Homo sapiens: one gene and its partner. The protein of the gene in region 2 purifies or fractionates together with the protein of the main gene of each other region. This does not show direct contact. Each region holds a gene or a part of one and is shown on either strand. Other genes may lie near its edges. The genes, in order: YTHDF3 and DUXB.

Region 1 (3,823 bases), on a different chromosome or scaffold from region 2:
GAGAAAACTTTCCCTAGTTGAACTGACTCTTGTGGCCCTGTGATCAAAGTCTAGCCAATATTTGGGGGGCTAATCCCCATATGGGCCACTCAATAGGATATTTTTAAAAAATAAAAATAAAAATATTCTGGCCAATATAATACAAGGATAAACAGCATGTTTTATTTCAGGAATGTCTCCCTCAATCTTACAGAGGGTATATAACAGAATTAGGAATCAAATTCTGCAAAGCCTCTATTTTGTACAAGTGCTTTAAGTATAAAAATTATAAAAATACTTCAAGAGTTTTATGTTTTAAAAACATATTTTGCCAGGCACAGTGGCTCATGCCTGTAATCCCAGCACTTTGGGAGGCCGAGGCGCACGGATCACGAGGTCAGCAGTTCAAGACCAGCCTGGCCAACATGGTGAAACTCGTCTCTATTAAAAATACAAAAATTTGGCAGGCATGGTGGCGTGTGCCTGTAATCCCAGCTACTCGGGAGGCTGAGGCAAGAGAATCACTTGAATCCGGGAGGCGGACGTTGCAGTGAGCCAAGACCACTCCATTGCACTCCAGCCTGGGCGACAGAGAGCGACTCCATCTCACAAAAGAAAAAAAAAAAAAAAAAAAAAAATATATATATATATATATATATATGTAATTTCTTATAAACACAAAATTAGAGTAAAACATTTATTTAAAAGTTGTTTCAGCTGGGTGCAGTGACTCAGGACTGTAATCCCAACATTTTGGGAGGCAGAGGGGTAGGGGCAGATCCTTTGAGCTCAGGAGACCAGCCCGGGCAACATGGTGAAACCCTCTATCTACAATAAATACAAAAATTAGCCAGGCGTGGTGGTGTGTGACCGTAGTCCCAGCTACTCGGGAAGCTGAGGTAGGAGGATCACTTGAGCCCAGCAGATCAAGGCTGCAGTGAGCCATGTTCACGCCAGTACACTCCTGCCGGGACAAGAGAGACCCTGTCTGAAAAAAAATTAAATAATATATAAAATATAAATAAATAAAAACTTGTTTTAAGTGCCAGGTTCAGTGGTACAGGTCTGTAGTCCCAGCTACTTGGGAGTCTAAGGCAGGAGGATTGCTTGGGGCCAGGAACTTGAGGCTATACGCCATAACTGCACCTGTGAATAGCCACTGCACTCCAGCCTGGGCAACACAGCAAGATGTCATCTCAAAAAAAAAGTTGTTTCAAACTCTAAATATATTTTCTCCTATGTTAGTATGATTAATAATATTAATGATTAGAGCCCCTGGTTAGTTCATGAAGTCTGTTTAGTTACAAATGCCAAAATTCATTCAGCTTTGATGATAAACACTGAGGCCCAATGGCCTTTATCATCTAGGGAGTATGAAGAATGAGCAAGAGGCTAACTCAGCGTGAGTTACCCTGGGAAAGGAAAGAAGAAATGGTTCATATAGGACACACATAGATACCTTCAAGGGTGTTTGTAGAGTTGTTTCTTAAGTAGTTGGTTTCCTTCACAGAAAGTTCTTAAACTCAGAATATACCCATCCATGCACCCCACCAGCAATACAAAGACCCCAAACAAAAAATTACTATATTCTTACCCTACGCATGGCTTCCTCCTCTTCTTGACGCTTTTCATAATGTGCAAAGTCATCAAAGATTGAGGTGGTATGCTTGAAAGTAGCAATTATTTTAAGCACTTGCTTAGCTTTTTCTAGGGGTACCTCTTGAGTGTCCCTTGAATTGGTAACCGGTTTGTTGTCATTATTTTCTAAGCGAATATGCCGTAATTGGTTATTGGGAACATCTTTGACAAAGATCCATTTAACTTCAAATTTGCCCTTCCACTTATCCTGAGACCAGACACCAGCATACGCATTATAGTCCACAACAGACTTCATTTCAGCCACTCCACAAAAATGTCCACTGCCATTCACACTGAAGAGTAAATAGAGTGGGCCTTTCCCATTCAGGGAACGGTAAGCTGCATCCAAACGCTTATTACCATGCTCAGTACTACACCAGATAGAGTATTTAATGGAACGATGTATGTCATCCTCAGAGTAGCTTTTAATTATAAACACACGTCCATTCTTCAGATTCCAATCAAAGTCTTTGGGATTATAGTTGTTTATGGCCTTTAGCTTTTCCAGCACGGGATGCACTTCTACACTAGAAGGTGAAGCACTGACAGGTACAACACCTAAACCAAAGTTTTCACTGCCCGCTCCATTGTTCTGGTTGAAGCCTGCTCCCCTGTTACGAGGAGCTACCCAGCGATTCTGCAGCTGCTGCTGTTGAGGCTGCACTTGGTGAGGCTGGGCCTGTGGCTGAGGTCCTTGTTGCTGCTGTGGTTGTGGTGGTTGAGGCTGCTGTTGAGGCAGTTGGCTTTGCACCAATGGTGGTGGTTGAATTAATGGCTGAGGCTGCTGGATTATAGTTTGAGGAGGCAGAACTGGTTGGGTTGGTGGAGCCTTTACCACTGACCCTTTTTCATCCCAAGTTCCAATATTCATGTTGTGTTTTATAGGAGGTGGTGGTACAGCAGAACCCCCAATTCCCACATTGCCCTTGGGTTTAAGTTTCGGTTGAGGTTTGGCAGGCTTTCTGGCAATGGCAGCCCAGGAGGTTGGTTTAGGTGCTGCACTGCTAACTGGGGGCACACTATTGGTTGCAATGCTAGTCATACCACTGCTGCTCAAAGCTGTACCTACAGTTTTTGTCACTGCAGCTGTCAGGTCACCACCAATTTTCAGTCCAGTCATGCCTTGCTCAATACTGCTAATGCCAGGCACCTTACTCAAAGTATCATTGCCAAATCCAGCCTGTCCATCAGTAATAGCTCTCCCAAGAGAACTAGGTGGATAGCCATAACTGCTACTATAAGCAGAACTTTGTGTTGATTGTCCCTGAGATCCACTTGTCCCCCATGTAGAGAAATCAGCATTACCAGGAAAAAAGTTAAATCCATGTTGACCAAGAAATGGAGGGGTATTTCCTAATGCCCCAGGTTGACTAAATACACCATCTGGTATATAGTGATGTTCTCCATTACTCATTTGTCCATAGGTTGTCAGATATGGCATAGGCTGGTCTCCAGCTGTGGACCACGCTGCTTCCCCAAGAGAATATGGAAATCCAATGGATGGAGCATAGTAACTAGGCATGTATGGATCTGACATTGGTGGATAGCTGTTACTCTGCAAAACAAAATATCACAATCAGTAGCGAAATGTCCTCTTAAAAGAGCAAAAAAAGAAATCTGAAAGATTAAAATCAAGAAGTTTTAAGTAAATGAAAATAAAAGATGTACCTATTCTAGATAAACAAAATTAAAATTTCAAATCCAGTTTTATCAACAGAAAAATTTGCTGATGAGTAGTCACATCTTAAAATATTTCTTACAAACTAACCTATATGGCTTTTTTCAGGGATGAGAGTGGGGGTATAATGAGTATTATTTTTGTTTGAAGAGCCAGGCCCTCTGTCACAATTTAAAAATATCATAATTTCTACAAAAGGCTAATATATAAACTTTGTGGACACAAAATTACCATTTACAGCCAGCTGTACTTTAATCAATTGATGTATGCAATCACTTACACACAAGGATTAAATAAACTAGACAACTCTGCCGAATAATAGAGGAATTACAGCTTATCTATATGATGGAATCCAGTTCAACCATTAGATTTTGTACTTTCATTAAGGAAAAAATGGAGAAATGCTCACAGTCTTGAGAAGATTCAAGATTACGTTTATAGCATGATGCAAATTTCTTTTTGTTTTGCTTTGCCTTGTTCATTTCAAAAAAAGACATAAAACAAATTCCTTATCATAGTTTCTTATTG
Region 2 (4,533 bases):
TTGGAGACTATACATATGATGCAAAACCCAGAACTCATTATTTTCCTCTAAAAACACATTTTCACTTGGTCTTCATTGGTTTAATTACTATTTTCTCTGATAGAATTATATTCTTTACAGGTATCTCTTTTTCTTTCTTTATTTGAGACAAAGTCTTGCTATGTTGTCCAGGTTGGAGTGCAGTGGCTATTCACAGGCATGATCCCACTACTGGTCAGCATGAGAGTTTTGATCTGCTTTGTTTCTGACCTGAGCTGGCTCACTCCTCCTTAGGCACCCTGGCGGTCCCCAGCTCTTGGGATGTCACCGTATTGATGCCAAACTTACTGCAGGCACTCAATCCACACAACACAGGCACAGTATAGCACAGAATGCCTGGGCTCAAACGATTCTCCTGCCTCAACCTCCTAAGTAGCTGGGAGTACAGGTGCACACCACCATGAGAAGGAATCACAGATAACTTCTTTTTTTTGGTAGACATGGTCTCGCTCTGTCTGCCAGGCTGAAGTGCAGTGGTGCAATCACGGCTTACTGCAGCCTTGACCTCCTGGGCTCAAATGATCCTTCCACCTAAGCCCCTGAGTAGCTGGGACTGCAGGTGTGGAACAACAAACCCAGCAAATTAAAATACATGTTTTTGGAGAGATGGGGTTTTACTGTGTTGTCCAGGCTGATCTTGAACTCCTGGCCTCAAGTGATCTTCCACTCTCAGCCTCTGAAAATGTTGGGATTACAGGTGTGGGTCACCCTACCCAGTCCAGGTATCTTTCTGATAACTGGAGAGATTTAACTTAAGTTTCATTTTATGTCAGTTATTCTATTTAAAATAATTCAGTATGGAATTTTATTTCAAACGCTATGTGTATGAATCACATTTGAGACATTAAATTAAGAAATAGCCTGAGACTTCGGAATGCACATGCATTCTTACCCCAGTTTCCTTGTAATTACATATTAATAATCGATCTGAATATTCTAATACTAAAATATAGGACATAATTATCATGGTGATTTCATTTCCTATATTCTCTAAATCTCAAAATATGACTTAATTACCTATTGGGAGAGACTGAGCCAGTATATTCTCCTTCCCCATTAGTGAATACAAATGATATTTCCACCTTTGGTAAAATACATAAACCGCATCCTTGTTTTTATTTGTTTTCTTTTCTTTTCTTTTTTTTTTTTTTGAGACGGAGTCTCGCTTTGTCTTCCATCCTGGAATGCAGTGGTGTGATCTCTGCTCACTGCAAGCTCCCCTCCCGGGTTCACGCCATTCTCCTGCCTCAGCCTCCAGAGTAGCTGGGACTACAGGCGACTGCCACCACGCCCGGCTAATTTTTTTTTGTATTTTTAGTAGAGAGAGGGTTTCACCATGTTAGCCAGGATGGTCTCCATCTCCTGACCTCGTCATCCGCCTGCCTTGGCCTCCCAAAGTGCTGGGATTACAGGCGTGAGCCACCGCGCCCAGCCTTTTTATTTGTTTTCTAATTTTGTAGAACAGGAAAACGTTTCTTAGCAAAATACCTGATATAACCTGATATAAGAGAATTGGCAAAAGCGCTGGGCCTAGTCTTTCTCTTTACCATGGTTCTGACAGGTAATGAAGTAGAAATCTAATGCCTACCTGAATATTAGATTCTGGAACCCCAATTTCTTTGGCCAGTTGTTCTCTGGCAGCTTTATCAGGGAAAGGGTCATGTTGAAACCATGATTGGAGGATATCCTTTTGACTCTGGTTATACTGAATTCTGTTTCTCCAGAATTCTTTTTGAAGTATGCCTGATGAACAGAAAAGGGGGAGAATAGTGTGAATAATATATTTATGGGTTTAAATCTGTACTTTGATTAAATTAATTTATTTTGAGACAGAGTCTCACTCTGTCGCCCAGATTGGAGTGCAGTGATGCAGTTTCGGGTCAATGCGACCTCCGCTCCTGGGTTCAAGCGATTCTTAAGCCTCAGCCTCCGGAATAGCTGGGACTACAGGTATGCACCACTGTGCCTGGCTATTTTTTTTTCTTTGTAGAGATGAGGTCTCATTATCTTGCCCAGGCTGGCCTCGAACTCCTGGGTTCAATTGATCCTCCTGTCCTGGCCTCCCCATTTTGTTAATTATTATTATTATTATTATTGTTACTATTTTTTGAGATGGAGTCTCGATCTGTTGCCTAGGCTGGAGTGCAGTGGTACCATGTCAGCTCACTGCAAGCTCTGCCTCCCGGGTTCACGCCATTCTCCCCGGTCAGCCTCCTAAGTAGCTGGGGTGCCACCACACCTGGCTAATTTTTTGTATTTTTTAGTAGAGACAGGGTTTCACCGTGTTAGCCAGGATGGTCTCGATCTCCTGACCTCGTGATCTGCCCACCTCGGCCTCCCAAAGTGCTGGGATTACAGGAGTGAGCCACCGCACCCGTACTGTTAATTATTACTCTGTATTTTTACTTTAGGCATAGAGCTAAAGTCATGCTAAATTGGGTATATAAACATTTAAATATATATATTAGAAAACGATAATCAATGACCTAAGTTTCCAAAGAGAGAACTTACGGAAAATGTACAAAATTACCAAAAGAGGAAGCAGTAGGGAGGAGGAAAATTAACAAAAATCAATGAAAAAAGTGAAACTCATGGAACAATTGAACAGGTGAAATAAGACACACAGGAACTGGTACTTCTAATGACAAAGAATATATCTCAGTAAAATTCAGTAGGCTGCATTAGACAGTTCATACATTCTCCCCTCCACATAAACTGTCAACTTTAAAACTTTAGGTAGATGACCCTTGTATGGGACTCATGGCTGCCATCTTACATTTCAAATTCAAGAGTCCAACTTCAAAGCACCCATGGCTGTTCTGACACAATTTATCAGCGAAAAACAGCTGCTGCTCTACCAGTCTGTACCTCTAATCATGTTTGTGCTATAAACTTTGACAAACTCTGAAAAATAAGCAAGACATGCAGCAATCCCAAAGAACAGAGAAAAGGCTGATGGGAACTTACCACCTGAAGTGCCCTCCAAATTCATCTTGGGCAGAAGACCTGGACTCCACGGAGATCAGCGAGTAACTGAGCAGCTCTCAAAGACACAGGCTTTATATAGGGTCAAGGTGACCCGCCCCTTTCTTAAATAGCTTTCAATTTAATCCCCTCATTAAATATTTAACACCTGTAGAAAGAAACTTGAAGTAATTAGATTAAGTGGAAGTACAGATTCTACGTGGTGATTTTGTCTTCTTCATAATACCTTTCTAAATATGACTCTTGTTTAATTATTTCAGTTTGGCCATATTAGTTTCTACATTATAAGAATGTCCTTACCTTACTTTGCATTTTTTGTTTTCCTCGGCTCTTCTGAAACTCATGTCTTTTCAGCATTGCGATGGTGCTATCTGTGTGTCAACTTGGCTGCTCTACGCTCCCTATTTTTTCAATAAAACACGAATCTAAGCATTGCGATGAAGGTATTTTGCAGACGTGATTGGGTTATATAATCAGTTGGCTTTCAGTAAATGAGATTATCCTGGATAATCTGGGTGGGTTATTTTCTATCAGTTAAAGGTCAATCAGTTAAAGAGCAAAGCTGAGGTTGCCCTGGAGGGTGGGGGTGGTGGAAATCACATCTTGGGAGGGTGGGGGTGGTGGAAATCACATCTAGCTGGGGGTGGTGACTCAAGCCTGGAATCCCAGCACTTTGGGAGGCTGAGGCAGCAGGATCGCTTGAGCCCAGGAGTTAAATTTCAGCCTGGGAAACGCAGGAAGACCTTATTTATGTAAAAATTTAAAAAAATTCCGTAAGTGCTCAGCTGCTTCATCTGCTGTTTTAGGAGTTTCCACCTGCTTTTCTGAAGGGCCTACCCTACAGAATTTATTCCTGCCTACCCAGACCCTACAATTATAGAAGTGAGTTTTGTATTGCTGTGGCCTGAATGTTTATGTAGCCTCAAAATTCATATGTCGAAATCTTCACCACCAAGGTAATGGTATTAGGAGGTGGGGCCTTTGGATAGTGACTAAGTCATGAGGGTGGAGTCCTCATGAAGGGGATTAGTGTCTTTATCAAAGAGAGCAGACAGGGAGGGAGAGAGGGAGATCCCTGTGATCCTTCTGCCACGTGAGGTTAGAGTGAGAAAATGACTGTCTACTAGGAAGTGGGTCCTCACCAGACACCTAACCTGATTGTACTTCCCAGTCTCCAGAACTATGAGAAATAAATTTCTGTTGTTGATAAGCTAGCCAGTCTATGGTATTTTGTTATAGCAGCCTGAATGGACTAAGGCATATATATGTCTTTATATATATATATGTACAAGTGTGTATGTGTATAGATACCTATATATTTATAATATAAACACACACAGGCATACACACATATATTATATATAGTTCACTAGTTAATAGCTGACCTCGGAACACTACTGATTGTTTCTCTGATGGAACCCTGAATGATACAGATGTTGATGTGCCCAAAATCATAATTACTGTCATGCGCATCCGTGTGAAGAGACCACCAAGCAGGCTTTGTGTGAG

Evidence for each region.
Region 1: the proteins of DUXB (region 2) and YTHDF3 purify together in Homo sapiens (affinity purification with mass spectrometry, with the first as the bait; one large-scale study listed by BioGRID). This does not show direct contact.

Annotation. Positions count from the first base shown.
Region 1 is NC_000008.11:63,185,496-63,189,318, reverse strand, and holds part of YTHDF3 (YTH domain-containing family protein 3), read right to left. Parts: intron 3,173-3,823; coding exon 1,574-3,172; intron 1-1,573. UniProt on the Homo sapiens protein: Specifically recognizes and binds N6-methyladenosine (m6A)-containing RNAs, and regulates their stability. M6A is a modification present at internal sites of mRNAs and some non-coding RNAs and plays a role in mRNA stability and processing.
Region 2 is NC_000016.10:75,698,388-75,702,920, forward strand, and holds the start of DUXB (double homeobox protein B), read right to left. Parts: upstream 3,075-4,533; 5' UTR 3,032-3,074; coding exon 3,007-3,031; intron 1,783-3,006; coding exon 1,628-1,782; intron 1-1,627.